Linked DNA regions of Homo sapiens: all the other regions are reported to be linked to region 2. Evidence: microRNA targets listed by miRTarBase, many of them from high-throughput screens and not tested one by one. Region 2 holds a microRNA gene; each other region holds the end of a gene's coding sequence.

The links. The annotated mature microRNA hsa-let-7b-5p reads UGAGGUAGUAGGUUGUGUGGUU and lies in region 2 at 3,381-3,402, shown strand. An mRNA with a match to its seed (bases 2 to 7 or 8) in the 3' UTR can be bound and repressed. Matches are read on the target gene's strand: a 7mer-m8 pairs with bases 2 to 8, a 7mer-A1 pairs with bases 2 to 7 and ends in A, and an 8mer does both.
Region 1: the mRNA of EIF2B3 is a reported target of hsa-let-7b-5p. The part of its 3' UTR that is shown has no 7-base or 8-base seed match.
Region 3: miRTarBase lists DMD as a target of hsa-let-7b-5p. Seed matches in the 3' UTR shown: 8mer at 4,108-4,115.
Region 4: the mRNA of RCAN1 is a reported target of hsa-let-7b-5p. The part of its 3' UTR that is shown has no 7-base or 8-base seed match.

What each region holds. Positions count from the first base shown.
Region 1 is chr1:44,844,634-44,852,487 of GRCh38, forward strand. EIF2B3 (eukaryotic translation initiation factor 2B subunit gamma) reads right to left here. Exons shown (of 12, transcript NM_020365.5): 12 at 5,889-6,370. The coding sequence ends at 6,318. Among named protein-coding and RNA genes, the nearest start is that of PTCH2, 5.3 kb to the left of the region's middle.
Region 2 is chr22:46,110,311-46,118,164 of GRCh38, forward strand. MIRLET7B (microRNA let-7b) reads left to right here and starts at 3,376; the gene lies at 3,376-3,458. It overlaps LOC124905135 (collagen alpha-1(III) chain-like), which reads left to right. Exons shown (of 2, transcript XM_047441696.1): 2 at 1-3,618. MIRLET7BHG (MIRLET7B host gene) reads left to right here. Exons shown (of 5, transcript NR_110479.1): 5 at 1-3,618. MIRLET7A3 (microRNA let-7a-3) reads left to right here and starts at 2,439; the gene lies at 2,439-2,512. It also overlaps MIR4763. RefSeq lists an enhancer at 467-1,000.
Region 3 is chrX:31,115,871-31,123,724 of GRCh38, forward strand. It overlaps DMD (dystrophin), which reads right to left. Exons shown (of 79, transcript NM_004006.3): 79 at 3,352-6,060. The coding sequence ends at 6,049. Among named protein-coding and RNA genes, the nearest start is that of FTHL17, 48 kb to the left of the region's middle.
Region 4 is chr21:34,511,829-34,519,519 of GRCh38, forward strand. It overlaps RCAN1 (regulator of calcineurin 1), which reads right to left. Exons shown (of 4, transcript NM_004414.7): 4 at 4,614-6,428. The coding sequence ends at 6,256. KCNE1 (potassium voltage-gated channel subfamily E regulatory subunit 1) reads right to left here and starts at 382. Exons shown (of 4, transcript NM_000219.6): 1 at 199-382.

The DNA.
Region 1 (7,854 bases), not on the chromosome of region 2:
CAGGTCATCTGCCCACCTGGGCCTTCCAAAGTGCTGGAATTATAGGCGTGAGCCACTGTACCCAGCCTACCCCCTCTTTGAAACCTTCCTTGATTCATGTCTCTCTCCTGGCAGATAATTGCTTCTTTGTGCTCTGCATAACAACTCAATTTATATATGTATAATTGCATTTATGACACAAAAACTTATGTACTTGAAAGTCTGCCTTCTTCACCAGACAATAAATAGGTGCTTAATAATTGTTGAGTGAGTCACTAAGAGTTGCAGAATTCAGGGTGTAAAGGATTGGAAATTGGGAAGAATAGAGGCAATAGTCCCTCTATTAAACTTTCAACTATCCTATCTGAGTGTGCTGTTTCTATTGGGTTCCTGATTGATAAACCTCAAGTGGCAGAGTAGGGTAAAATCAATATTCCAATATGTAAAGTTTGAGAAAGAGAAAATGAATCTACAATAAGCTAATTTTTCTAACACAACTACTATTATCTCTGGCAAATTTCTTGGTCAGTTCTTCCAGACTTAAAAAAAATCATTCCATCATAAATATTTCATGTTACTATGTAGTTTTTGTAATCAATCATTTGGAGAATATCCTTAGGACAGATTCCCAGAAGTGGGTTGTTTGGGTCAAAGAGTATGAACATTTTTATGGCTCTTGATACACACTGCTCAACTGATTTTTTGAAAGCTTGTGCAAATTAACATCATCTCTAGAGCCTCAGTCCTGGGGAAGAGGAACATTTAGGTTGAAGGGGTGAACACCTAACAGGTTTGCCATTTCCATTTGTCCATTCACCCAGAAAAATGCCTATGGAGGAACTAATATATGTATGATGCTGTTGGCCAAACAGTAACTGCACATGAAAAGCAGCCTACCTGAATAGCACTTTCTTCTCCCTGTTATAGAGTGTGTCCTGCTGAGCATAAAGTGGCATGGTAGCTCATGCTTGTAATCCCAGCCCTTTGGGAAGCTGAGGCGGGAGGATTGCTTGAGGCCAGGAGTTCAAGCCCTGGCAACATAGTGAGACCCCATCTCTACAAAAAATAAAAAATTAGCTGGGTGTGGTGGCGCACACCTGTAGTCCCAGCTACTTGGGAGGCTGAGGCAGGAGAGTTGATAGAGGCTGCAGCGAGCTGTGATTGTGCCATTGCACTCCAGCCTGGGCGACAAAGTGAGACCCTGCCTCAAAAAACAATAATAATGATAACATAAAAAATTTAAGGTTAAAAAGAACTGTACCCCTAGCAAGTCTCTGAAATAGAAACAGCCTCTAACTTAAGTCTGTATGGGCCCCTAGTTTGCTCTTGGGGCAATAGCTGAAGACAGGGAGTGGCCTGGACTCAGCACTGGTTGTCATCAGGAGTACAACTCCCGATGCTATGCTTTAAGTAAGTCTTAATCTCCTTCCTTTTTACCAGACTCTGCAAGACATAAGGTCCATGGATAAATAGATTTGTAACCACTTGGGCCTTGGGACTCTGCTTTCATCATAGGCCCATCACTGCTAACAATTGTGACAAAGTCCACCATTTCTATGGATGCTTCCAAGGCCAAGTCTGTCTATTAAGGAAACCTCTTGCCTTATAGTTCAAAGACTAGGATGGAAGAAATGGGTCTACAGTTTCCAGCCTTTCCAACCTAGGGCCTAGTGCTGTCTGGCTGCTCCAAGCTACAAAATGACCTGTCTTCTCCCAAACAAAATGGTTTCCTGAGCCCAGCTAAGCTCAGCCAGAGCCAAAGCCATAGACCCCAGGAATAGGAAGGGATAAAGAGGCTTCTCTTCTCTTTCTGCAAGCAGCCTCCTTTATGATAGAACAGCTTGTTTCACTGTCATTTCCACTGGTCCTGGGTACGTGTTTTGGGCCTAAACTAGAGATATTCTCCAAATAACAGGATAAAAGCAATCTAATTAAATCTCATTACTGACTCATGAAACAAACGTCTTGGGATCTCCTTTTTTTAAATTTTTTCAATGAGACAGGGTCTCATTCTGTCACCCAGGCTGCAGTGCAGTGGCATGATCTTGGTGCACTGCAGCCTCTACTGCCCAGGCTCAAGTGATCCTCCCATCTCAGCCTCCCGAGTAGCTGGGACCACAGGCGCGTGACACCACGCCTGGCTAATTTTTTTGTATTTTAGTAGAGACAGAGTTTCACCGTTTTGCCCAGGCTGGTCTTGAACTCTGAGCTCAGGCAATCCACCCGCCTCGGCCTCCCAAAGTGCTGGGATTACAGGCATGAGCCACCGCGCCCAGCCTTGGGATCTCTTATGTGTCCATTCCTTTGCTGGGTTCTGGTGTTGCAGGGTACCTGCTTTTTAGAAGTTCATAGCCTGAGGGGGAGCACAGAGACCACAGGGGAAACCACTGAGTTGGGGGTACTCAGGGATGTTTCCAGAAGTGAAAGGAACTGGATGGGAGAGGTGGGAGGATGACAGAATCTAAAAGGAAAAGGAATGGCTCATGGTCTGGATCTTTCATTTGCTGGTTGTGAGATCTCAGGGAAGTCACATAATCTCTGACATTAACATAAGGATTAAATGAGATAATACATATGGCTGAGGAACAGTGCCAGGAAAAGTGAGGCAGCCCACACTCACATACACACAGTGCTGGGTAAAGTGACCAGTCTGGCTTCAGGGGTGGGTTCATGTGGGAGTTAATTCATGGTGGAGGCAAGGCAGGCTTGCTTTCTCTGGCATTCCTCTAGGCTTCTCACTCGCCAGCTTTTGGCTGCTTCTGTTATCTAGGCCAAGCAGAGTCAATGACCCTGAGATGTGGAGGAGGGAAGTGGGGGTCCTGGGCAGCCCCATCACCACCTGTTATATTTAGGGGCCAAGCCTGGGTATGTATGCTCCTTCCCTGTGGGCAGGTTGAGGCCAATAGCACCTATCAAGTATTTGTTTGTTTGAGATGGAGTTTTGCTCTTGTTGCTCAGGCTGGAGTGCAGTGGTGCCATCTTGGCTAACTATAACCTTCACCTCCTGGGTTCAAGCGATTCTCCTGCCTCAGCCTCCTGAATAGCTGGGATTACAGGCGCCCGCCACCACGTCGGGCTAACTTTTTGTATTTTTAGTAGGGATGGGGTTTCATCATGGTGGCCAGGCTGGTCTTGAACTCCTGACCTCAGGTGATCCACCCACCTTGGCCTCCCAAAGTGCAGGGATTACAGGCGTGAGCCACCGCGCCTGGCGTACCTATCAAGTATTTGGTGCCAGGGCTGCAGCCAGAGATTAGGGAATGGTCCTTCACTTTAAGTGTGGGGGAAGGAGACAGGCTAAGAACAAATGCAGCCTCTCTCTATTTATCCATGGCAGAAAGGCCCCGATGCAATCATCCTGGGTAGTGGCAGATGGCTCAGGCCAAGGACAGGTCATACTGGCTTCCAGTAGAATGTGTTCTCCTGCCCAGTCTCTCTCCCTCTGGGTCAGCTTCATTAGAGCAGAGCTTTCTAGACTTTCTGTCTGGGTGGTCCTTTCCATGGGCCTCCCCCTTCCTCAGACACATTTAACTATTTAGAAAGCTGCATACAAAGGCCTGGTTTATGTACCTCCTTAGGAGTAGGGATAGCTGTGGATAAAGAAAGTGTATCCCCTGCAATTCTCTGGAAATAGAAACAACTTCTCAACTAGGCCATGCAGGCCCTAGATTCCTGTTGGGGCTACAGCTAAACACAATTTCCCTCTCTCCACTGAGTATGGAAGTGGGATGGTAATAGTAAAGTAGTGAAGAACTGGGAAGAAGTTCGACCTTTGGCCTTGGGGAACAGCTTGGAGGGCAATCTTGGCAGTCTTATAGGCTCACAGGAGCTTATGGGCCCTCACTTCAAGTATGGGGAAAGGAGAGAGGCTAAGAACCAATGCAGCAGCTCCCCATTTATCCATGGCAGAAGGCCCCTGATGCAATCATCCTGGGTAGTGGCAGTCTTCTCGGCTCAAGGAACTCTTGCCAGCAGGCAAGGATGAATTGTAACTGGGGGATGGATTCCTGGAGTAGCAGCTGTCAAGTTTTGTCTGACCCGGCAAGCTCCCGGAACCCTGTTCCTCAGCACATCCCCAGGGTCCTCCCTGATTCGGCATTCGAGGTCCCCTTTCTCCTCTTCCTCCACTTCCCTCATTGAGCATCACTGGGAGAGGCAGGGCAGACCCTATTAACTCTTCTGCCTGCCTTGCTTTTCTGATTTCTGTCCATGGAGAGGTGGCCGGCCAGTGGACATTCAGTTGCTCACTATGTTTCAGACATACTCAGCCCCTCTGTAGCTGCTACCAAAAGAAAACAAAAACTGTCCCTGCCTTCTGGCAGACAAACAGGGCAAAGAGAAGAAAAATCAAAGCATCTTGGGCACCCAGCCAGTCCTGGAACTGTCAGACAATAGCAGCAGTGTCCTGAGCTGGGGGCTGCTCCCAGCTGGGACTCAAACTCAACAACACCTTCCTCTGGGAAAGCTTTTACCTTTTGTTTTCTCCAGCTCCTTCCTTTCCTTGATGCAGAGGCCGTTCCATGGACTTGTGCAAAGGGAAGGCACAGGAGAGGTTTTTCCTCTGTCTCACTGTCAGGGGTTCTAAGGGCTCCATGGGGAAGGACAGGAAAGGGTACATAGGAGGGCTCTGAGACAGTTTAATCAATGCCCTTTACTCCTCCACCGCACTTTCCCTCCCAACCCTTTTCTCTGCTCAAGGAGCAATCTTCTGGCTCCTTGGGAGACCCTAAGGGGAAGAAAGCTCTGGGAAAGAGGACAAAACCTGAGAAACAGAAGGGCCTTTAACATTCAAACAGTCGAACTTTCTCATTTTGCAGATGGAAACACTCAAGGTCAGAGAGGAGAGAGTGATTTGACCCAAACCAAACAACATTACAGAGGACAGATTTTCTTCCACCCAGGCCAGGACTCTGTCTCCAGCACCATCTAGGCCCCACCAATTTAATTTCAGTTCCAAAGGGGACCATGTTGGGCACCACCACAGCTCTTTATCCCCACATCCCTCTCAGCCCTATTGGTTTCAACCACTTCTGCCGGGCCATTTCAGCTCCTGCCTGATTAGGGCAAACTTTCAGGAGCCTTGTTCTGACCAGTGGGAGCACCAGGGCTCTCAAGAAGGCTGACAGAGGTGGAGATCCCCCAGGGTAGAAATACTCACGGAGTCTCTCACAAGTTCTATGACTAAGATAGGCAAGATTACTCAAGTAAACTTGAGAGCCTTGAGGTTTTTGAAGCAATGCAGAAACCAGTATTTCAAATAATTCTTTCTAATTACTGCCACCCACAGTGAAGACATCAAGAGAAGCCTTTACTTTGATAATTCTAGGAGGTGAAATCTCACCCCAGGAACCACTTTTATCTTCCACCAAACACCTGCAGGCTGTAAAAGCAATGCAGGGAGAGAGCAGAGTGAATGTGTGTTTGGGAGCAGGGGTGGTGGAGGGAAGGTGGATAGGCCTCTAGAAGGGCTGTGAGTATGGAAATTTCATTCCTCAATTATCTGAAGCAGGAGAGTCTGCAGAATTAGGATATAAAGGAGTGCAGCTGGAGGAGAGTCAGAAGGAATTTCAAGCCATGATACAGGTTCCTGGCTCTTCCTTCCCAGGTTGGGCAAACCTCAGTGAGGTGAGGTGCAGCGGGGTCTGGCTTGGCTCAGACCATGGCTCTTCATGTTCTTATCTCCACTAGAACCTGTGGGAATAGGCTTGTTGGCTAGGCAGGGGCTGCCCCTGCTTCTGTTCAGTCTCCAAGGGATATTAGTTGAACTAGGGAAAATGGCTAGAGGCTGGGAGGAGAGGGAGTGAATGGTGAGCATGGAGGGTGGGGCTGTGGGTGAGGTGGGGGAAGGGGCTGGGAATCTGTATGGTAGGTATGGGAGCAGAGTCCTGGGCTGATGCTCAGGCGTGGCACTGCCAGCAGCTAGGCCTATGGGTCTAGAAAGGCTGATTAGGATAAGGGACTGAAGTACTCCCAGGTCCTTTTAGGTGAGGGATACTTTCAGGACTGGGTTGGGTCAGCCAGTCAGAAAGTAGCCTTCCTAGGAGCTTTACATTGGACAGCTGCTGCCCCACCGATACATCTTGGCACACAAGAGTTAGGCCACTGTATCTGTCCTGTCCCACACACTTGCTCCAGATGATCTTTACCACATGACACATGAACATACACTGTGTACACCTGGAGCCCACCTGACATGGAGCTTTGGACTGCTCCACAAGTCTCCAGCATGCCTTTGGAAGCCCTTCTTTATTGGGAAATAAATACAGAGTTAAACAGGTGGGCCGGCCAACATCTGTGGCTTTGGAGGCCAAAAGGAAGGAGTCTGACTTGCTCAGAACTCAGATCTCCATGAGCTGGTCATTCCCCACGATCACCTCATTCACTCGTTTAGCTACAAAAGAAAAGGAAAAAAGTTTTCTGAGAACTGGCAGCAAGATGACATTTCAAACCCAACTGCTTTTTTTTTTTGGAGACCGAGTTTCGCTCTTGTCACCCAGGCTGGAGTGCAGTGGCACAATCTCGGCTTACTGCAACCTCCATCTCCCAGGTTCATGCGATTCTCCTGCCTCAGCCTCCTGAGTAGCTGGGATTACAGGCGCCCGCCACCACGCCTGGCTAACTTTTGTATTTTTAGTAGAGATGGGGTTTCACCGTGTTGGCCAGGCTGGTCTCGAACTCCTAACCTCAGGTGATCTGCCAGCCTCAGCCTCCCAAAGTGCTGGGATTACAGGTATGAGCCACCACGCCCAGCCAAACCCAACTGCTTCTAATTCTGTGTTCACAAAAATTTATTTCTCTACTATTGTGGCTGTGATCTTGAGAAGCTCTTGGAAATAGGGATATGAGAGAGAGAGCACCTTCCTATGCAGGAGGATGGGACCAACTGTCTATATACCTGGCTGTGGTGAGGCTTTAAATAGGAGAACTGAAACTGGGTCTTAAAGGGTGAATAGTTTCTACAGGCAGTGATGGAAGGGATTCTAGGCTGTTAGAACAGCAAGGGCAAAGACAGTGAGATGGGAGAAAGGGGACCATGAAATACTGTGGTGTGGCCAGAGAATAGGAAATGAGGGGATAAGGGTAAGAAATGAGGCTAAAAGGATAAACGGAGATAAGAAAGGGCAATACCTCATATATAATATGGAAATAATGACACCTACTGCATAGGGTTGTTGTGAGAATTCAATGAGTTAAAGGTAAGTGAATGCTCAATAAGTTGTGGCTATTATTATTTCTATAAAGGTCAAACCCATAAGGCCCTCCATGACATCTTTGCCTACCTCTCCAGCTTCATTTCCCACTATTCTCCATTTTGCCAGTAAGCCATACTGTTTTAATCCCTTTTTTTTTTTTTGAGATGGAGTCTTGCTTTGTCACCCAGGCTGGAGTGCAGTGGCGCAATCTTGGCTCACTGCAACCTCCGCCTCCTGGGTTCAAGTGATTCTCCCGCCTCAGCCTCCCCAGTAGCTGGGACTACAGGCATATGACGCCACACATGGCTAATTTTTTTTTTTTTTTTTTTTGTATTTTTAGTAGAGATGGGGTTTCACCATGTTGGCCAGGCTGGTCTGGAACTCCTGGGCTCAAGTGATCTGCCCTGCCTTGGCCTCCCAAAGTGCTGGATTACAGGCGTGAGCCACCGCACTTGGCCCTGTTTTATACCTTTGAACTTTGGCACAACCCTCTGCCTAGAATGCTTCCCCCTCCATTTTTTCCTGTTGCACTCTTACTACCCTATGTGCCCTAACGTAGCACCTCTAATATGCGATGCCTTCCCTTTTGCACTGTCCATTTCCTGCTTTGTGAAACCACTGTACCTAATATATATCTCTATTCCTACATCATTATACCACTCTCCTCTACTTCACTATAAGA
Region 2 (7,854 bases):
GGATTCTCACAGCTCCGCCCACTGGGCTGTCCTGCCCCACCCCCTTTTTAGCCTGCTGGGACCATGAGTCAGAACCCAGTAGGTGTGAGGGGACCCAGCCAGCCCAGGTGGCCAGTCCAGCCTGAGGGGGTGGGGGTCTCAGAGATTAAGTCAGGAGCCCAGAGTGCGTGCTTAGGGTGCAACCCACCCCACAGCCTCCCCCAAGGCACCTCCCGGGGGTGCAGATGGGGGCAGACGCAGGGACACTCAGGGTGGACCACCTGACTGGGAGCTGATCATGAGGTGTGCGACAGCCTGAGTCAGCCTCAGCTCAGAGGAGCTGGGATGGCCTTGATCTTCCCCCTCCGGCCACTCACCACAGCTGGGAGGGTCCAAGGAGACCCTCAGCCACTGTCCCTTCAGCCCTCACCCCACCCTGGCTGGCTCTGCCCGGACAGTCCTTAGGGACATCTTGGTCCTGCCCACCAGCCAGGGGACCCAGAATTGGAGCAGGGGAGCAGGACCCCCAGACCCTCTCATACCGCTTTTGTTCTGAGGCCTTGAGGGAACACGGGGTCTTCGCGACCCCAGGCGAGATGATGCTGGGACAGAGGAGGGTCGGGCTGCATCGGGGCCCTCCTGGTCCCCACTCCTGGGTGAGTCAGCATCTCAGTCTCCAGTTCTGGGTGGGCGGCACCAGGTGTGAGCCTCAGCGGTCTCCTTGCTGGCTAAGGACCTGGGATTTGCTCCAGTGCCCCTCGGGAGGGAGTAGGACACGTGCCCAGAGAGCAAGCAGACCCCCTCCCCGACCAACTTCTGAGAGCAAAGACACCTAGAGCTAGAGATTCAGCACCCCCTGAGCCTCAGTTTCTCCACTATGAAGTGGGATCCGTGATCTCAGCCTTACCAGGGCTGTGAGGATTAAATGGTCCAGCCCAGCCTGGGGCCTGCCTGGAGTAGGCAGCCTGCTCAGGATGGGCTGTGGAAGGAGGGCTGGGGTAGACCTTTCAAGTCCACTTGGGCATGGGGAGCTGAGAGCTAGCATGCCGTTTAACTTGGCAGGAAGCAGGCCGGGCGCAGTGGCTCATGCCTGTAATCCCAGCACTTTGGGAGGCTGAGGCGGGCGGATCACGAGGTCAGGAGATCAACACCATCCTGGCTAACACGGTGAAACCCCCTGTCTACTAAAAATACAAAAAATCAGCCGGGCGTAGTGGCGGGCGCCTGTAGTCCCAGCTACTCGGGAGGCTGAGGCAGGAGAATGGCGTGAACCCAGGAGGCGGAGCTTGCAGTGAGCCGAGATCGCGCCACTGCACTCCAGCCTGGGGGACAGAGTGAGACTCCATCTCAAAAAAAAAAAAAAAAAAAAAAAAAAAAGCTTGGCAGGGAGCAGGACATTTGGACCTCACTCTGCTGCCCCCTTGGCTGTGTGACATCCAGGTCACGTTGCCTCTCTGGGCCTCGGTCTCCTCACCTGTTTAAGAGGGGTTGACAGTCGTATCTGCCCCCTCAGCTTTTCCCCAGGAAGGTGGTAGCCACAATTAGCATTTGTTGAGGCTGACCCTGCACCAGGCCCAGGATAGGCGGGGCTTAGGGAGGCCCGTCTCTCGCCACGTTCCCCTGCTAGGGGAGCCCCGAGGCCCTCTCAGTGTCATCCTCATGCTACACTCTGTCCCAGCCCTGTGCGTCCCAAGCTAGGGCACTGAGTGTGCCAGCACCCGCAGGGACAGGCACTGGACCCTGGGTGGACCTGAGGGTCTGTGACTACCCCCCCAGCTGCTCTCCCCTAGAGGCCACTTCCCTCAAGGAAGGAAAGAACCTTCCCGCCACCTCCTGCAGTGCGGTCAGCTCAGGCCAGCCTGCACAGCAGGGCCAGAACCAGGGCCCCTGGGGAGGGATGCCTGCCTGCCCAGTGGGAGGAGACGGCACGCCCGTGAAGCCGCTACTCAGCCAGCCTGGGGGCCACGAGTGCTGCTTCTGGTGGCGCTGTGCGGGGAGGGAGGGGGCCGAGCAGGGTGGGCACTCGCATGCCTGTGTCTTGCTGGCCTTCGACAGATGACAGCCCTCCTCCTAGGGTCTCCAGTGCAGAGTTCCTTGGGGACATTATGGCCACTCCTGTCCAGATGAGAGGGAGCCGGCTGCCTGTGACAGCGTCGCAAAATGCCGCCAGGGCTTTCCCTCCCTCCTCCTTTCTCTCTTCCTCGTCCCTCTCTGGTTGGTGGTTTCCTGCAGGCTCCCGTCCCTGCTGGTGCTGGCCACAATGTCCCCACTCCCAGGGTTTCGGCGTCCCAGCCCCCTGCGCCCACCGCGCCTGCCCGCCAGAATCCCTGTGCCCTTGGTGCGTGTGGCCTGCCGAGCCTCGAGCCCCTGTTCTCCTCAGCCCTCTTTCCTCCCGCGTCCCCAGGAGGTGCCTCTGGAAGCCACGGAGTCCCATCGGCACCAAGACCGACTGCCCTTTGGGGTGAGGTAGTAGGTTGTATAGTTTGGGGCTCTGCCCTGCTATGGGATAACTATACAATCTACTGTCTTTCCTGAAGTGGCTGTAATATCTGCGGTGGACAGAGCGTCTGGAACCCTGGCTGGGAGCGGGCAGGGCCAGGTTTGGGGGCAGCCTTGGCAGCAGTCGGGGGCAGGGGCCGCCTACACTGAGAAGTCTGACAGGCCTAGGTGCCACTTGCTGTGTGACCTTGGACAGGCCCCTGATCTCTCTGGGTCTCAGTTTCCTCCTCTGTAAAATGGAGGCAAATGAGGATGGAAGGAGATGCAGTGTGGAGCATCGAGGGCAGAGGAGAGCTGAGCCGACCCCACCCTCTGCCCCAGCCGCACTGAGAGAGGCGATCCACGCAGCTGTTTGTCTGACCTCTGTCTCCCAACACTCCCCAACACTCCCCCCGCCATCAGGCCCAGGCTCATGGGTGGCCCTGAGCCGTACCCTCCACTGAGCACCAGGAGAAGGCACCGTGGGGCCAGGGGTGGCCGAGACGTTTGGAGGTCACAGGGCTGCGAGTATTGGCGTTGCCCATCACCCCAGGTTCCCAGCACGTGCCCCAGCCTGGCCAGCTCAGTGGCAGGGCCTCTGCCTGTGGAGGAAGGGAGGCCAAGGCACCTTTCCTGAGCAGGAAGTGAGAGGAACAGCTCTGCATACACTGGGTCCCACATGGCACAATCTGAAGGCAGACAGTGGCTCCTCTGTACCTGGGGAAACTGAGGCCCAGAGAGCCAGGGACTTCCCAAGACCAGCCAGCAGCAGCTGCCCCTTCCTGGGGTGCCATCTCCCCTGTCCCTCCTGCCCTGCGCCTGCCCAGCCCTCCTGCTCTGGTGACTGAGGACCGCCAGGCAGGGGCTGGTGCTGGGCGGGGGGCGGCGGGCCCTCCCGCAGTGCAAGGCCGGGCCTGGCGGGGTGAGGTAGTAGGTTGTGTGGTTTCAGGGCAGTGATGTTGCCCCTCGGAAGATAACTATACAACCTACTGCCTTCCCTGAGGAGCCCAGTGACACGACCCCATGGGAGGGCCGCCCCCTACCTCAGTGACACGACCCCACGGGAGGGCTGCCCCCCACCTCAGTGACCTGCAGGGGGCCTGAGCCGAAGCTGGGTGGGCATCTGGGAGCTAGATTCAATAAAGCTGTTCTGACCATGAACTTGGAACTGGCCCCTTTCATTCTGGAAGCCCAGGGACTGGGCTCTGGGGCGCGTCTGCTGCGGGACAGTGTGGAGGCCCCTGGCCACGAGCTGTTCCAGGTCATGAGACTTGTCTGCTCACGCCTCCCGGTGCCTCCAGAGTCCTCAGTTGGCTCCGTGCTGTACCCTGGGCTCAGGATCCCAGGCCCAGCCCGTTCTCTGCCCTCTCGTGCTGCCTTTGAGCCAGGCGGGCTGAACACCGGGACCCAGGCCCGGTGGAGAGGTCCCCACGGGGCAGCCACCAAGGCCCCAGGTCAGCAGCTCAGAGCACTGCCAAGTCCTGGCTCCTGAGGCCACCTCCGTGCCTTAAGTGCCTTGACCAAAGTCTGGACGTGCCTGTCCTTCCGTCCTCCCTCAGGACAGTTTCCAGGGCACCCGTAATTCCTCTGACAGACTGCCATCCCAAAAGTGCACCCATTCTCCTGGGAGGCCTCAGGCCCTCGTCTAGCAGCTGCCGTAGGCTGGGCCCAGTGATCCCGCCCTGGGCATGTGGGGTGGGCTTGTTCATGCCTGGCCCAGCACCGAGAGCCCCTGGTGGGGAGGGGCTGATACAGCTGGGCCCACACCTCCCCCACCCAAGTGCCCATCCTCGCCCCTCCTGTTGACCCAGGCCACAATCTTGGCCCAGATTCCCCCCTGTGCCCTCCTGGCCTGCCTTGGTTCTGCAGGCAACCCCAGCCCTGCATGGCCACGTCTGGGCAGACCGGCACCCCTACCCTGACACCCATCTGTGCCAGTCCTGCACGGCAAACACCTCAGAGCCCAGGCCTGCCTACCCTCCCGGAGCTGCTGCCACCCTGTGGGCCAAGGGCAAAGGGACGTGGAGGAGGGGCCCAAGGGCAGGGAGGGCTTCCTAAAGCAGGGACCATCTGAGCTGGGTCTTGACAGCTGCGTAGGAGTTTGCAGCTGGAGATGAGTGACGTGCCCCATGGTCCCTTCTCCCATCATCCTCTGGGGCCAGAGTGGGTGACACATGGGCACTGTCCAAATCCCCTTCTTCACCCCATAATTAGTCAGCAGCCACATCTGGCCACTTCTGTCCTCTAAACACCATTTCCATCCCTCCCCACTCCCACTGCCAGGCCTCAGAGTCTCAGAGCAGCCCCCTCTGTCTCCGGAGCAGATCTCTGCTGACACCCTTGCCTGCACTGCCTCCCAGCACCCCTCCCTCATGCCTGTGCTCACCTCCACCAGGACTCTCCTGCTCACCACCGCTCCCCCACCCCTCAGTCCACGGCTCAGACCCATCTCTGGCCACCGCAGCCCCTGTCTGTGTCTGAACAGACTGTGAACGTCCCGAGGAGCCAGCCTCTCCTCCCAGCCCCCATACTGTGTAGTTGGAGCAGGGTTTGGCCCTGCAGAGCTCAAGGCCTGGTCGGGGAGCTGCCAGGGACACACAGTGGCCATGTGTTGGGGTCAACATCACAGTGGAGCAGCCCAAGGGCTGGGGAACCCTAAGGATCCCTGGACCCAGCCCTGCAGTCAGAGGCAGCTTCCTGGAGGAGGTGATGCCTGGCTCACCCCACTTCCCTCCCTACCCTCCAGCTGACCAAAACCTTCCCTGCTGACTGGCCGTCCCTAGAGATGGGGTTGCCAAAACTCGCCCAAAATATAGGATGAGGGCAGCCTGTGGAAGTTCTGGGGGTGACAGGCCTAGATTGGTCACTCTGCTCACCAAACCTGTTTCCCATCTCGCAGTGGGGTCACCGTAGCTTCCACCTCCCAGGGCGCCCATGAGGATTTAAGCTGATACCAGATCAGAGTGCCCAGGGATGTGGATGAGTTGCCTTGAGAACAAAGTCCAGGGAGGAAAGCCGGGGACCAAGGACCTTCAGGATGGCCCCAGCTTCCCGGGCTGTGCGGGAGCCACGTGCCACGGACCCCTCCCAGCTCAGGCAGTACCGCCAGAGCACAGCCTTACCCTACAGAAGAAAGGTCGGCGTGGCCCTGTCCTCCGAGGAGATGAGGGCTCAGAGAGACTCGAGGGGGCTCCTGGGCTGTCCAGAGTGGGCCCTTTGAGAGACCCCTGGGCCCTAAGGTTCAAGTAGGCCACCGCTGACCTTGGCCTTCCTAGGAGGGATGCAAAGCCAGCCCACCACTTGAACCCGGCAGCCTGAGCACCGAGGGACAGGGCCGCCATCCAGGGCCAGGGCTAGGACAAGGCCAGCAAGGTGGCAGACACGGAGCATCTCGGCCGGGGGGCCTTTCTTGGGTCACACATCAGCACGGGGCACAGAGGTGAGAGCCCAGAAAGAGTCTTGTTTCCATTTCTTTTAAAACGGGAAGGGAAAATGACCCCTCCAATACTGAATATATAATGTATAATGAGTATATTATAGACTGGTGTAGATGATGGGGTGAATATAGCGCGAACCCAGCCTGGGTTCTGGGTGTCTTACCACCCCAGTCATGGGTGCGGTTTGTGATTTTGTTGTGAATTGTGGAGGAAGGGCCCAGGAGGGCCACATGCCCTGCCAGGGAAGCCATAGAGAGCCCTGCCCCGGGAGGTCAGTGCCTCCTTCAATGCCTGCGATCCCTCACCCTGCCCTGCTTCCCCCACCATCCGCCCCGCCTGGGCAGCCTGGGCCACTGCCCGCCAGCCACCCCCGCCTTCGGACTGTGCATTTCCCGACAGCGACACCGTGTGGCAGCAGCCCCCACCTCCGAGGCCAGCCCCGCCTGCACCCCCCCCCCACCTCCGAGGCCAAAGCTGTGAATAGGGTGACCCCTTCTGGGCTGTGGAAGCCTCGGGTTTGAGGACAATCCTGGGGAGGGACCCCAGGGCGCTTCCCGCTCTCCTGGCGTGTGTGTGTTTGCGGGGGAGGTGTGGGGGCCTCTGTACCCATCACAGCCACGTGCCGGGACCGCCGGCCATCGTCCCGAGCCAGCGACATGCCTGGCAGCCTCCCGCCCACCTACGCCCCGCTCACCACCAAGGAGCTGTCAGCATCACTGCCCCCAACGGCATCTGGCAAAACTGTTGGGGGTGAGCCAGAGGGAGCACCCCCGTCCCCAACAGCGCTGAGTTGAGAGCCACATCTGTCTCCAGGCACTGCCACCAGCAGGAAGGGAGGCCACCCTGAGCCTGGGAAGACTCCGGAGCTGGGTTATCTGAAGGCCGGGAGTTCAGGTGGCCCCAGGCAGAAGAGGTGGCACAGTGAAGGTCCACACATGGGAGGCGGGCGGAGTGGCTGAGCCTGAAAGTTGGCATCTGGGCCCACCAAGGACAGGCCTGCCATGTTTGAGCCCTGAGCTGAGCCTCCCCAGAGCCTGGGGGGAGGCTGGAGCCCCAGTGAAGGGCCTCAGATGCCAAGGAGGGAGGTCAGGCCCTAGGGCTAAGCCCCTGGCACAGACTCATACCCACACAGTGGCATTTAGTGAAATGGGCTCCTCTGACGTTGCCTCCTGAAACAGGCAGGGTCGGAGGGGTCAGGTCTGATGAGGCCTGGGGGCATCCCTGTGCCAGCTGGGTGAACATGGCTGGTCACTGTCCCATTCTGAGTTCAGCCTCTTTCTAGAACAAGAAGGGAGGTGGCACCAGCCAGGTCGCACATCTCAGATATCGGACAACTGGGGAGCTGAGGTGGACCAGGAAGGGGAAGGCTTTCAGGTCTGGCTTGCTCAAGGGACTCAGCTCCTACCCCGGCCCCAGCTGTTGCTGAGCCTGAGGGCAGGTGGTGCTGCCAGGTGCCTTGTGTTGGCCTCCCTGCATGCGTCCTGCCTGGTGGCCCAAGTTCAGCATCCACACTTATGCCAGCCAGTGCCCTATACCACCCTCACCCTTCCAAGGCTCCCACAGCCTTCAGGGCTGCCCAGTGTGAGAGCTGCTGTGAGTCTATATGGGTAGCTTGGTTTCTCTGATTGGGAGCAGCTTCCCCAGGGCTGGGAGCAGGACCCAGACAGTTGCTGTAAATGCTGGTGTGTCGGCCCCTCTGGTGCTGCATTGGTGACATCCAGGGCCTGATCTGCTTCCTGACAGTCCCCAGAGGGCCGCCATCCTCAGCCCATTTCATGAATGTGGAGACAGAGGCTCAGAGAGGTAGAGTGACTTTCCCAAGGCCACACAGCAGGCCGGGTACAGCTGGAATGGGCGGCCAGCTCTGTCCACCCCATGATCTGTGGCTGTCTTGCCTTCCAGGCTGCCTGGGGTTGGGAGAGTAATGGTGGCATAGGGGACAACAGGTTGTGTTCTGGGG
Region 3 (7,854 bases), not on the chromosome of region 2:
ATAAGTCTTGAAAGCCTAGGAAGTTTTAAAATGAAACAAAGAGATGGTGGAGTAAACCTAACCCTTGGTTTTAATACTTTTATGTTGAATTTAGGCATAATCTGTGTTCGTTTAAAGTGCTTAAGATGTTTGTGGCAATTTGACATATTAGCAAATTGGAGAGATGTCTTAGGTTCCAATGTAAAATGTGTAATTTTACACATGTTATTATTTCAAAATGAATAAAAAAAGTTGGACTCAGCTCATACAGTATATGCTATTGGAATGTTTCAGAGGACTTGAGATTCACTATATTTATATGTTTGTCTCGATATATGTGAGTTAGGTATGGTGGAGGTGCTGTTGGTTGGCGTTGGTCTTCCCTGTGAGATATTAGATAGGCTTGAAAATAAAGCACATTAAGTGTATAAATACAGCTTAGAACGAAAAAATTCAGACTACTCAACGTGGCTAAGTCTGCTCACTAAAAGTGACTGTTCTTACTTCATACAAATTGTCTACATTTATATATCTAAAAATGAAATTTCTAAGTTGAACCTAAAGATTTATGAAAACTTAGGTTTTAAAATGTATACCAAGTGGAGAAACCTGGCAGACACCACCTTTACCAAATGATCAGTGTTAACAGCACCAAGAATGGGAATATGCCTCCTGGTATCACATGCTGAGGACACATCATTGTTTGTGTAGTATTCCTGACAAAAATGCATACCCTGAATCTAAACCATGAGAACACATCAGACAAACCCAAATTGATGCACATCCTACAAAGTAACTGTCTTGTACTCTTAAAAATGTGAAGGTCTTTGAAGACAGAGAAAGGCAGAGACACTGTTCCGGATCAAAGGTGATTAAAGAGATATGACAACTAAATGTCATGAAATCATGAATTAGAGTCCAGACTAGGGAAATATATATAATGATGAAAGACATCATTGGCACAATTGACAATATTTGGTTGAATATGGACTGTGGAGTAGATGATAGCTATATATAATTTTTTTATTTTGATAATTGTACTATGGTTATACAAGAGACTGTCCTAGATATTAGGAAATGTACATGATGTATTTAAATGTAAGGAGGCATGATGTCTACAACTTATTCTTAAAATGGTTCAGGAAAAACTATCATCTATTCATTGAGAGAACGATAAAGTAAATGAAGCAAAATGTAAACAATTCATTAACCTGGGTAAAGGGTATATGTGGGTTCTTTCTTTGTACTGTTCTTGCAATTTTTCTTTTGTTTCAGTTTTTCTTGTTTGAATTATTTCAAAATAAAGTTATGGAAGAGCTAAAATCCTGAATGTATATAAAATACACACATGTACATACACACATATGTACATATAACATTTAAACCTCAAGTTACTGTAGGTAACCTTTTCTGTACACAAAAGCTACTCTCAAACAAACATCCCCAAACTTTACACATTCACACAATATTGTTTATTATGGAATGTTGGGCATGCTGCCACTCTTGTGTTGTCAGCTAAGTCCATGAGATCACAGTACACTGACGTGCAAGGGGCATTGAAGAACATATTTATAGTTCCTACTCCAATGGCTTTGCTACTGTGGGAAAGAATTTGATTTGTGTCCTTCCTACACTTAATTTGAAGGCAAAGTCTTTGCAAGTGCGCCAGTGCCTGCCTTTGTATTCATTCCACCATTAGAGCATTACAAATTCAGGGAAATCCCATCGCAGCTCTACAGAACACATCCATTAGTCTTGGTGCTTTCTCCCAAACAAACACACATTTTGCTTGCCGGTGCATAATCTGTGCCAGCTCGATTCATTTTAATTTTTAACTGAATTAATTCTGTCTCTTCTAGTGTGTGCCAAGTATGGAATGGAAAACCAAATGCCCTCCTCAGAGTCATCCACACACAGTTGTCTTAGACGTGGTGAAGTATTGAAGATTCCTCAGTTACCTCCTTAAGTGTCACCAAAACAGCCAGTCTGGGTGTTTCAAACAAAGGTAGGTTCGGGTAATGGTGGGAAGGATAAATGATTTGTTTATTTAAATAGGATGAAAATTTTTCTTGGTATGTGTGGATGTCAAGGGAAGTGTTTCAATGTGGTAGTCACTTAGGTCAGCATCATCACCCTACTTTCAAAAAATTAGCAAGTGATTGATTCACAGCAGAGATGCCACATCTACTAACAAACATCATTTCTAATGAGATGGATCATCTCATCTCCTATTATTTCCAAAATCACTAGGATAGGCTGCACCTGGTGGACTTATGTTATTCCTTTGGCTCACCAGTATCTGAACACTGTTGGGGAACCCCGCCCACCCCATCCATGAACCTTGGGAATAGGTAAAGATAGATAGCCTCTCCCTAAGAAGTGCTGACATTGCTACCCACTTTCTCAGCTTCCTTTGCAGCTAGGGCAAGAAACAGAGCAGGGCAGGGGCAAAGGAGAGGTTCTCCCCATGGTGGTGGTTGACTATGGTAAGGGATTCTTCTTCCCCAGAACCAGTTGTGAGACATCATTTTAGGTGTCTCTTTCTTACTACTCACTCATGCATCCTCTTAGATGGTGACATTAAGAATAGAAGTGATATGAAATTCTCTTGAGAAGCAAAGTATGAACTGCAAACTGACTTAATTAATATACTTGTCATTATTAAAACAAAAAACACAACAAACAAACAAACACTATGACTATCAATCAATCAATCACTGCACAAAATGTATCATCTCCCAGTCTACAAATGCTTACCCCCTTTGATCCAGCAATCTCACTTCTAGGAAGTATCCCACAGATTTGTTTGTTTATGCACAAATGAAATGATGTAATGAGAAATGTGCAATATTGTTTGTTATAGCAAAAGAAAGACTGACAACAGACTACATATCCCACCAAAGGGAACTGCTTAAATAAAATATCCTATGAACATATAATGAAATATTATACAGCTATAAAAAAGAATGAGAAAGCATTTTATATATTTAAATGAAAAGATTTCTTGAGTCCATATTTAAATTTAAACAAACAAACAAGTAAGGTGCATAACTGGGTGCAGAGAATGCTATATCCTATGAAATAATAATAGGAAAAAAATAAATAGGAACATATATATTATTTTAACTGCTTATATAATAATTAATAAAGAAAGACCCTCTGGAAGACTAAATAAGAAATTAATAATGTCTACTCATAGAGCAATGAGGATGATTGATTGATATGGGGGAAGGGGTAGTTAGGAGTGTTTTCACTGTCTTTCTGGATTATAGTTTTTTACTCATATGCATGTATTACCTATTTAAAAAGTAAGTAAGTAAGTAACAACAACTAAATTAAAATAAAAACAAAGTACTGCAGTCCAGTCAATACTTTTTTGTAACATAACTGCGTGCTTTATTGAGATACACAGTAAAGCAGTACTATAATACAATAGTAAGGCATATATTTGGTGAAGTCTGATATGTTGTGAAAATGCAGTAAAACTGAAGTTTAAAAAAATAATTCGTAAATGTTACAGTGTTGGTGTTAAAACACAATATATTATGATACTCAAGTAAGAACTCAGTACCTGAAAACAATGACAAAACATGCCATGTGATGTTTATGCTTCAGTTACATTATGATTTACAGTTTAATACTTGGTGGTTATAAAGAACACAACACGAAATAATGTCCAAATTAATTATGCTTAAAATGCAGCAATAAAGCTCTCAATTTTTGTTCAAATATTATGACAGACTCACTCCAGAGCTAATGTGTCTAAAAGAAAAACAAAAAGATTAAAACAAAATTATTTATGCACTCTATTTACCTCTGATTTTAGAATGAAACTTACTTACTTAAACTTCTTAGTAGGATGTAAAGTAACCCCTTGTTTTAAATCTGAGTTTTAAAAATCCTTGGGTAAAGAAAAGGTCCAGCGTCACATAAAGGAAAAAAATGCAAGACAAAAACCAAATCTTCATGTAATTTGGTAATTTGTTACCTTAGAGCTTTGGGTTTTCTTTTGAAAATTATGAAGGAAAAAGAAAGAATTATAAAGGAAAAAGAAAATAACGCAATGGACAAGTGGTGAAGCTGTGAACTCAGGTGTGCACAATTATCAGGAACACCCCAAAACCAAAGTGAGGTAGAAATAGCATGAGAAGCCGTGTTTGATGTTAATTAATTAATTATTAATAATGGACAAAACCCACTCTCCAAAAGCTAATTACACTTGATGTCAGCCCACTCTCCAAAAGCTAATTACACTTGATGTCAGAGGTAACAGATTTGCAAAATTATAGGTCACACGGTGGTATCTATTGAATGAATGATTTAAAAATCAAAAAGAAATAAAATGGCATGAAAGAGTAAAGCTTTTTCCTACCAGTCCTTAGCTTTTCCTCTTGAGCTTTTCTCCTCTTTTTTGAGCAATTTTTGTTTGTTTGTTTATATATTTAACCTGTCTAATCCACCAAGAAGGGTTTTTTTGTAACATTTGAATCAATTTGCCTTCTTTCTTACTTACTTACAAACCTGTGTGGAACTACTCGCAGAGAAATGCAAAGGATGGAAACACAGTTCATGGGCTTCTGGGTTGATACCTGTCAGTATCACAAATGTGATGGGGCTACTGTTTTACACCTTTTCCCAAAGTTTATTTATTTTAAATTATGTCTTGTGGCATTTAAAAACTCATCCCACATGGGACAATAAATCTAAAAAAGCAACAAAAACCAAACCACCCAGTTCCTTTTGACTGTGAGAAGAGGGCATAATAATTTAGTTGTAATTACAGAGAACTTTATGTATTATGAACAATCATCCAATCCTTCACTTAAAGAGTGGCCTACTCCTTCACAGGGATGGGCTGGGAATCCATAGCCCTCCAGCCCTATCATCGTCCTGCTACTGCTTGGGAGTTAAAAAATACCTTCTGATGTTCACAAGGTCAGAATACCTTCTGATTGATTTCCACTGAAGCATCATTAAATCTAAATCGTGGCATTGCTAGCAGCAGGAAGCTGAATGTATCAATCAATCAATCAATCAACCAACCAACCGATTACTCACTCTGATATAATAAGTCCTGTGTATTCATTCACATGTTCCCTTTAAAAAAATCCAATACTTTACTTTACTTTCGTTGTCAGTGGAAAGTTGTTTAAAATGAGAAACATCTGGAGCTGTAGACAATGTTTTAGTGTGGTGTAGTTTCCTCCTGGCTTCCGGCTCCGGGAAAAATCCATTCTAGACCAAGCAGGTAAGCCTGGATGACTGACTAGAAGTAATTTCTTTCTATTAGGATGTGACATGAACATTTAAAAAATGGAAAAAGTCAGTCTATAGAAATTCGTATCTCTTTATCTATATAACTATAGTATTTATATACTTATAGACATATAGATATATGAAATGAAAACTCAAGCCTGCCCCACTCAGCTGACAGTTCTCAAATGAGCAGTGTGTAGTAGTCATTTGGTGTGGTGGTAGAGGAAGTCTTATCTTTAATATGCAAAAAAAGAAAAAGCCATGAATTTCATATGGATATCACGCCAAAAGGATGCAAAACAATGCGCTGCCTCAAAGTTTTGTGTGTGTGTGTGTATGTGTGTGTGTGTGTGTTTGTTTTGTTTTTAGGGGTTTTTATAAACAACTTTTTTTTATAAAGCACACTTTAGTTTACAATCTTTCTTTATAACTGTTATAAATTTTTAAACAACCCAAAATGCGTTCCATATAAAGAAATGGCAAGTTATTTAGCTATCAAGATTTTACATGTAGTTTTCTTATAACTTTTTTGTACAATTGCATAGACGTGTAAAACCTGCCATTGTTAACAAAACAATAACAGACTTAGAAACTACTGAAATCTACAGTATAATACCACTACCCTTCACAAAAATATAGATTTATTTCTTGTAAACTCTTACTGTCTAATCCTCTTTGTTGTATGAATATTATAAAAACCATGCGGGAATCAGGAGTTGTAAAACATTTATTCTGCTCCTTCTTCATCTGTCATGACTGATACTAAGGACTCCATCGCTCTGCCCAAATCATCTGCCATGTGGAAAAGACTTCCTACATTGTGTCCTGGAAAACAAAGAGAAAGAAAGACAGACTTTACAAAAGGTGCAGATAGATAGCATCACTCTGTTTCTTTGCCATTTGGGAAATCATTCCCCATTTCTGGGTGAAGACAACACAGAAGCTGCATCGAGGGTGTACACAACAAGGTTTGATTTTTCACCAGTTTCCAGGAAGAAGCAAAGCCTTATTAATGAAGCCATTACACGTTGTTTGTTAGTATCAGCTTAATGTTGGATCAGGCTACTGGTGTTTACATGGAAAAATGTCAAGCTACATTCAGGTTCCCAATGTAAATATATATCAAAAGAATTCCATAGATAAGCACAAGATTTCTATCAGAACAGGAATATTCCATGATGGGATACATCTTTTCCACCTTGGCTATGAGTGATTGATTGATTACTTACTCTCTACTTGTATTAACGAACATTTTTTTTACTATCAATCAAACCACCATCACCACCTTCACAACTACCACTACCATCACCAGCACCCAACCATCGTCACCATTATCACTGCCACCATCACCGCCACACCAACTTTTCATTTCAAAGCTGTTTCAGGCTGTTGGCTTGCTTCTGAGGCTATGGTGGAGGTGGCTATTTTCTCTCTGCTTTTACTTGGGTTGAAAAATAATAATAATAAACTCTTGAATTGACCTTTTGGTGCACTATTAACATTTGAATTAGGAAACCTCAGAATAAAAATTGCTTTACATTCCAAATTACTCTAGACCCTAATTATAAGGTGACCCACATGTATTGTATGCATTTGGGTATTTTGTGAATCCATCTTAGAGCTCCTCCTAAATGAGGGTTAACTATCACAATAGCCTTTTACTAATAATGCAGCACGACCTAGCACGAATCTCCCAGCACGGAGAAAAAGAACAGCACAATGTCCCTGGGTACTTCGTAGCAAAATTCAGATTTAGAGTAAGATAATCTGAGACTTACTTTATGGCTTGCCTTTTCGTCTATGTCCCATAGTTTTACATGGCTAATTTTAATTATTGCACATTGGTAAATCCTTCCACTATTCAAGTATTGTCTTTGGAACTGAAATGCTTTACTAGGCTATTACTACCTTGCCATGTATCAACTTTACAGATTCCCATAATAATTGTTAAAAATACCAATAAAAATTAAAGATATCCCAATAAAAATTAAAGCTATAGACTAGGGAGAGTATTTTGTTTTAATATTTATTTCAAGAGATATAGCTTCTCTACAAAATGAAGCGGATTCACGGGCAGGCACTTAAACAGTGATGGCACCAGATCAACTGAAGACTTACTTATTAAAAGTTTAATGTCATTCAGGCATTTCTATTAAGGTGACCAAGTTTGTATATCTATCTTTTTGTGCTTTATTAGTGCAAAGAATTTCATGGAGTATTAATTATATTTTAGAAAATCACTTTGGATTTTGGCTGAGACTGCAAGTATAAAAATTTTTTAACAAAGCATATGCAACTATTCATAAAGTGGGCCAATAGTTTGGCAGCCCTCAGTGAAGAACTGAAATCATTTTTGGCTTTCTGTGCCATAAAAACCACAGGAAGACGACACAGTGGGGCCTTTGCTGCTCCTTAGAGCTCAGAGTACAAATATATAACTGCTGCTATCAAGTTGGAGGGCTTCCCCTGTATCTATTTTTGGCTGTCCAGCAACCCTGGGAAATCTGCATAATTATTCATGCATAAATTGAAGATAGATGGACTAACTGCCAATTTTTAATTACTAGCGATCTTTACGGTTAACAAAATCAGTAAAAACAAAGTCCAGGACCTTTACAA
Region 4 (7,691 bases), not on the chromosome of region 2:
TCTCCCCCTTCTCCATGTGCTTCTGCAGTTGGAAGAAGTGAGGGGGGTTCAGACACACTTAAGCTGAGCTTAGAGCAAAGCATGTCCCTCAAGGTGACCTTGCCGCATGGCCTGAACCTAGAATTCCCCTGACCAGGGTGGACAGCCATCACCATGGGCCTTTCTGCCTGGCCTAGTATGGCTCTCCTTCGAACTCACCTAGACCCTTGCATCAAAGGACTCGGGGACTCTGCTGCAGTCATCCTAGCACGGTCGAGAGGAGTAGGAAGGTGCCCAGCGGCTCAGCCTTTAAGGAGGTCTATTGGTCACCATTGCTTCTGCCTTCTTGAGAACCATCACCCTCGGAGGATCCGGTAGTGTATCCCAGTCAAGTGTCAAATGCGTTGTTCCCTGGAGAGGAAGGCTTATTTCCAGAAAGTACTCTGACGTTTTGTAATTTGTGATTTCTATCACTGGCTCAGTGGCCTACCCACTGCTCAGCTCATGTGGCATGACCAGGCTGGGGCGTCGGGTCATCTTGTTCTCTGGGTGTGTGGCAACACTGGTTTATGGCGTAATTTCCTTCCTGAGAAGAAATTCAGTAATTTCTAATATTCAGGGCTTTAGGTAGAGGCCTGAAAATCACTCTCCATGCCTCTTTCAGTATTTTATATATAGTTGTCTCTTGGTATCCATGGGGTTTGGTTCCAGAATCCCCTGCAGATACCAAAATTTGCGAATGTTCAAGTCCTTTATATATAGTGGCATAGTATTTGCATATAACCTATGCATATCAGCCAATCATAGATGGTGATTTAAATCATCTCTTGATTACTTCTAACACCTAATACTATGTAAATGCTTTGTAAGTAGTTGTTACCTGGCATTTTTTTATTTGTTTTATTTTTGTTGTTGTTTCATTAATTTTATTTTATTTTTGGAATATTTTCAGTCCATTGTTGGTTGAATCCACAGATGCAGAAGCCTTAGACACAGAGGGCCGACCACACCTATGTATGCTGTTCTTAAAGTAGCAACATATTTGTTCTGAACATAGAAGAAATTAGTCGTCTATTAGACTTTAAGGGAGTAAATATGGTCCAAGTTGATTTTTAAATTTAGCAAATAGTCATAGACATATCAGTGTCTTACAGAAAATATTTATTGGAATGCTCACTCTCTCATTTGGGATACTGCTTTGCCTTGCTGTGTCTTAAGAATGTCATCAGAGCATCACACACTTGAAAAACGTTTTTAAAAGGATATGATGATAATTAAGACCTTCTCCCCAACCCCTGCCCATTATCCAAGATCAATGTTTTTTTCCTTTATCCTGATTTTAAAATCAAGTACACTTTATTGAGGCATACTTTACATGAAGCAAAATGTACCCTTTCTAAATATGATAAGTTTGATGAGTTTTCAACAGATGTATACAGCTGTTACCATGACTGTGTCTTTACCCAGGTTCTTGCATTGCTCAATCCAGATACAGAATGTCTCCATCACCCTGACAAGTTCCTTTGTGCCGCACCCTCTAGCCAATCATCTGTTTTGAGGAGAGTTTTAAAACAAAGGTTTTTGTTCTTTTTCACTGATGACCATAACCTACCACAGACAGGGTCTCTCTCTCTCTCTCTCTCTCTTTTTCCCTGTTCTTGCGCCAGCTGCCTGACAATTTGTGGGATTAAAGCTCTAAGCTGCTTACTGGCTCTTCTGACTAGGGAGAGGGAGCAAGCCTCATTATTTTTCTATTCTTTTCAGTGACTGCTCACTCCTCTTCCTCCAAAATCCCTATCCATCCATCCATCCATCCATCCATCCATCCATCCATCCATCCATCCAACTTTCCATCTACCCATCTATCCTTCCATCTATCCAATCCACTTGCGTGTTGAACGTCTACTATGAGCCATTGGCTACCAGGAATCCCACTTCCACCCAAATTATGTTTCAACAGGGAAGACAAACAATTTAACAATTACGATAAAAAAGAAAATATGCCATACAATGGAAAAGAAGGGGGCATGATGGGAGACCCAGCGGGAGTAGCTGGCAACGATTCTTAGGGGGAAGAGACATTCCTAATAGACACCTGCAGGAGAAATATTAAAGAGTCAATCATTTCAGTAGCGCTTATTGTGACCAATAATGCAAGAAGTTTCTGGGTTCCCAGGCTGATGGGTTTGAAAGTCACTGCATCATGAATGTGCCCAGGACCCACACGTTGTTTTGTAAGAGAGGGGTTCAGTAAAATGTGAAATGACCGACATTCAACAGGCAGAACTGTGCAGAATGCACGCTTTGCCACTGATTGAAAGTGTTTCTTCAGTAGGTTTTGATAGAATATATTACTAATCTGGTAAGAAACAGCTTAGGGCCACTCAAGAAAAGAAAAGCAGCCCCTAGAAACATGTTCTGTGGCTGGGCACAGAGGTAGCTGCTGGAATTTGAACAGGGGTGAGCAGGACCTCGTGGACCTCATTGTGGGGTTAGCAGGGCTGGGCTGGGACAATGAGATCATTTTCTAGGCAGAGAAAAGACAACATGGTAAGTTAAAAACACTGAAAAGTCTGCGCTGCCAGAGTACAAATGTCAGCCAGGAGGGCCCTGACACTCTTGAAAGAGGGATTTGAGCAGTGGCCACTGCATCTACTTGGCACTCGTTCGCTGTGTAGAAGGGTCACCGAGTCCCTCATCAGAATCCTGAAAGAAGGAGAAACGGTGGGCACAGGCAGCACACCTCAATCACTTGTGAATAATTTCCTTCTGTCTTTCATAAACATAGCTATGATTGAAATGACCTTTCACGAACAGCAGGGAAGGATTGTGGAAGAAAATGAGGTATGTGAGAAGCAAATCCATCTACCTGATTGCCATGTAACTTTCGGTGAGTCACGGAGTGAGAATTTCAGATGTGAATTAAGGATTGCCAAGAGTGGTGATATACTTGAAAAGTTTCCTCCACGTTCTACTCCCTGTTCTACTTTAGAATCAGGAGGCCAGAGAGGCAGGAGGGAAGAGTACTTGTTATTCATAGTGGACCTTCTTCCTGAATAATTTTTAGGGTAATTATGTATGCAGCTTCCACCTGAGTCACTGACCTTTGGGTGAATGTTACTGGATATGTACCTATGATACCCAGGCAAACTTTCTGCGGGTTCTACGGGCACTGTGAAGTGTGACAGACTTTGGCTGCGCGTTCACTTTTGATCATAACACGTCCATAGAGTGCTTTTAATCTCCTGCAACTTAACATATGAGAAAATCGATTTATTTTGTAGTGAGTTCTGCACATTTCACAGAAAATTAAAGCTCTCTGAAAACCCAAATCTTCTGTGGGCAGTAATTCACACACAATATTCTGGAAATGTAAAATCCCAAATGCCTGCTGACTTCAAATCAATGTTTATAGCTTGTGTCTGAATAGCTCCATGAATTGCTCCGCTCCTCTCCTTCTACTGCCCTTCGCTTTGATTTAGCCACTCATTTCCAGGGGCTGATTTTCTTTTTTTGCATGGCCCTAAGCTGTTTCCCATCAGATTAGTAACATATTCTATCAAAGCCTATTGAAGAAACACTTTCAATCAATGGCAAAGTGTGCATCCTGCATGATGCTGCCTGTTGAATGTCGGTTGTTTCACATTTGACTGAACCCCTCTCCTACAAAGCAATGCGTGGGTCCTGGGCACATTCATGATTCAATTACTTTCAGGCCCATCAGCCTGGGAACCAGAAACTTTGTGCATTATTGGTTTTACAATTTCAGCTGAGGCTTCCACAGAACAACTCAGAAGAAATAGGCTGTCCTGAGTGAGCCTTTTCCTTGACTTGTATTTTCTATTCTAAGGTCTATTGGCTTCACTGGCAGTGGGACCACTGACTTTTTCCCTCCTTTATCTAAGGGGACCTGTTGAGAGTCTCTATTTGGAAATATTTCCTGCCTGTCCTTAGTGGGGGTCAATGCCTGAATCTGTCCAATAATCAGATTTGACCAACTTGGTGGAAGTGTGGATTTTCCAGCACGATTAAACCTTGAACATATATGGCTTGAAAATGTGCAAATACTCTTGGAAATGACAGGATCATGGTTCTCAAGACAGAGAAAAAAAAGTAGCATGTGAATTTTCATAGATAAACGCCTAATGCTAATGTTGATCAGGATTAATGTCATTTCCTAGATTTCAGCAAATAAACACTGGGTTACTTAGGCCTTTGTGGGCTTCCCAGGAAGGTCACCACCATTTGAAATGAGACTTTCAGGGGAAAAGCTGCCAGAGATTAAACAGAAGGCTTACAGATGCATCTTCTGAAGATAACTTAGTATCTTCCATGGACATCTTTTCTAATAGAAAAGAAAGCTCTTCAAATGACCAAAACCATTGCTGTTTTGTGGAGGTGCTGGTGAACAGGGGTTTCATCACAGTAGCATCTACCTGTACAAACGAAATACTCGAAGTTCTGATTTCAGTTTTATCCATTTTCTTCTTTTGCAAGTGATGCATTCTTAGTGTGGTGGACTCTCCATGAACCACAGCACAGAATTAGGAGTTTCTAAGCTCAAATTGACAAAGGATGTCTCCTTCTGAATTTAAAATGTTTAAAAAGGTTTAAAAGCCTTTTAAACTGCAGAATTTAGAAGGTTCACAGATTTATTCTAGAAATAAAATGACAACTTTTCTGTAAGGAGCATACTGTGCCCATTTATTATAGAATGCAGTTAAAAAAAATATTTTGAGGTTAGCCTCTCCAGTTTAAAAGCACTTAACAAGAAACACTTGGACAGCGATGCAATGGTCTCTCCCAAACCGGCTCCCTCTTACCAAGTACCGTAAACAGGGTTTGAGAACGTTCAATCAATTTCTTGATATGAACAATCAAAGCATTTAATGCAAACATATTTGCTTCTCAAAGAATAAAACCATCTTCCAAATTTCCAAAGCATGCATTGTTACTTGGCATTAAGTATTTCAAAATGACAAACATTGTTACGGTATTGTAAGGCCAAAATATAATACCTATTTACCAGACATACACATTACAACTAGAAAAAAATTACAAATGTTAACCTAGTATAACAATTCCATCAGGAATGAATGGGGAAAGGCACTGCATCCCTCTCATATCGCCACAGATCTACTATCCACTTGACATGCTTTGAATTCAAGTCCTGTTAGACATGGGAACAGCTTTTCCTACAACATATGATTCACAGGTAGGTTAATACATCTTAGTCTCCCACTGCCATACTTTTCACCCAAGTGTACAACAGGTATGAATATATGCTATCAGCTTTATTTACAAGTGTATCTTGATGTCTTCGTGGGGTAAAAGAACCAACTATCTCAACCAACAGTTTCCAAAAAAGTTTTTGGCTATGATTCATGTATAGAAACCACCACATAAAAGAAACAACAGAAACTGAGGTCCGATCCCAAACACCTAAACTAAAATTTCTCACCCACTAAAAGTTGGCAGTGAAACTGCTATTCTCTGAATTGTATAAGCTAAATTCTACAGAGGAATTTCAGATCAACTTCTTTTGCAAAAGCACAAGTTACACGTTGCACGGTTGGGGATGCTGAGTGAATGCATTCCAGGAAGAGTTCCGCAAGCAAGTGCTGTTGCAAAGAGTCGAGAATCCGAGAATCTGGGAAAGGTGATACGTTTTCCAAACGCTTTCCTGGCTTCCCAAAAGATGTAAAACAACAACGGTGTAACTTTATATACGAACAAAGGTTAGTCTTGTAAATCAGTAATATACATGCACAAACATGAGAACATGAGGGAAGAAAGGAAACGCTACAATTTCCACATTGCATTGCTGCTGTTTTCACAACCTCTCTGCACTAGGCGGCTTCCTGTGGTACCTCTTCCTACCAGTAGAGAGTGGCCCCTGCAGGCCACTTAGAAACAGGAAGCTCTCTCCTGAGCTCACTGATCAACCTGCCCTTGGCACAGACAGAACCTACCAGAAAAGAACAAGTACAAAACACTATCATTATCTGTTTTCTCAAGACAGTCCCAAATGTCCTTGTGCGATCACCACAAACTCAGTGATTGGCCCAAGTCATTCCCGGGTGCCATGAACAGTAACTGGTGTGCAGCATTAGAACAAGGGGACACGGCCTTGATTCTCTTCTGAGCAACATGAACTGGGATTTCTGCCACCCCGATCTCGGCTGCCACCTCCGAAGAAGTCGTGACCAGCCACCTCCACAGTAAAAGATTCCTCCCGTGAGTATGATTTGGAATGCGTCCTCGTCGCGTGCCAGTTCAGCTGAGGTGGATCGGCGTGTACTCCGGCCTCCTGGTCTGGATAATTTTTGGCTTAGGTCTCCTCATTCTTTCCATTTCCTCTTCTTCCTCCTTCTCTTGATCACTCTCACATACATGGACCACCACGCTGGGAGTGGTGTCAGTCGCTGCGTGCAATTCATACTTTTCCCCTAAGGAGGGAAAATAATCGCAGGGTCACTCAGACAAGTCCTTGGGAGTCAAAAGGCAAACATAAAAGAGCATTCAGGGCTCTGCTGGGCCAGCTGCTCGTGACCATTCGATTGGGCTGAGAGACACAGCCAGACATATTTTGGGTTTGTATTTCTTTGCTAGCTCATTCAGAAAAAGAGAGATTTCCATTGTGCATGACTCTGTTTTTAGTCAAACATTCTGGGAGTCCAGGCACATGAGAAGTATAGAAGGAATGCATTTTTCTAGTTATACTTCACATGTCCACCAGATATCTAAACTACCCAGAGAACTCCCTTTCTGTCAGCATTTCCTCAAGTGTGAATGTGAGAAACTTCGGTTCAGGAAAAAGATGGATGAAGAAACGTATTTGGAAACAGAACCCTGGGCCTCCCTCATGCAGCTCCTATTTGAGGGTCGCAGTGCACGCCCAGGAAGGGCGCCACAGGAGGCCCTGCAGCAGACGCAGGGGTGGCTGCACGGAGCCAGGTGCTCTGGAAACGTTTTTGACCTGGGCATCTTTTCCTTAGAACAACTTCTAATCCCCGGGACCAGGAGTGTCCTGCTGTTCTATGTCAGCCTGAGTTCTACCAGGTTGGCCAAGTTCAGGCCACTCTGGTCCAGCAAGGGTGGGGAGAGCTTTCTGCAACTGAAAAACCCGGCAATGTAGAATGAAGGGACTGGGGCCTCCCGCTGGGGTGCCGCTCTGGCCACGGGAAGAGTGTGCATCTCTGGTGCTCATGAAGGCAGCTCTGAGCCTGGCTCCTTAGTACCCAGGGCTCATGGGCACTTTATTCTGCTTCCCTGTGCACCTCAGTTCCCTCCTCAGTAAAGGAGACGGTAAAGGTATTGACTTCATGGAGCTAACAGCATGAGTGAGTGCCCGAGGCAATGAGAACCCGGCTCACCACATGCTTGTCCAGCCCATGTCACCTAGAAAGATGTTTAAGAATGGAGACTGCATCGTTATTGGTGCCCTGCTGGGCAGGGATCTGAAATAGGGGCAGGAGGTTTGCTTCAACCTGCTCCACCCACAGGGTGTGGCCTCATGGTCAGTTTTCTTCCAGGGCTTTGTGCTTGGGATTTCTTTTCTTTTCTTTTTTCTTTTTCTTTCTTTCTTTCTTTTTTTTTTTTTTTTTTTTGAGACAGAGTCTTGCCTGTTGCCCAGGCTGGAATGCAGTGACAAGATCTCGGCTCAGTGCAACCTCCGCCTCCCAGGTTCAAGTGATTCTCCTGCCTCAGCC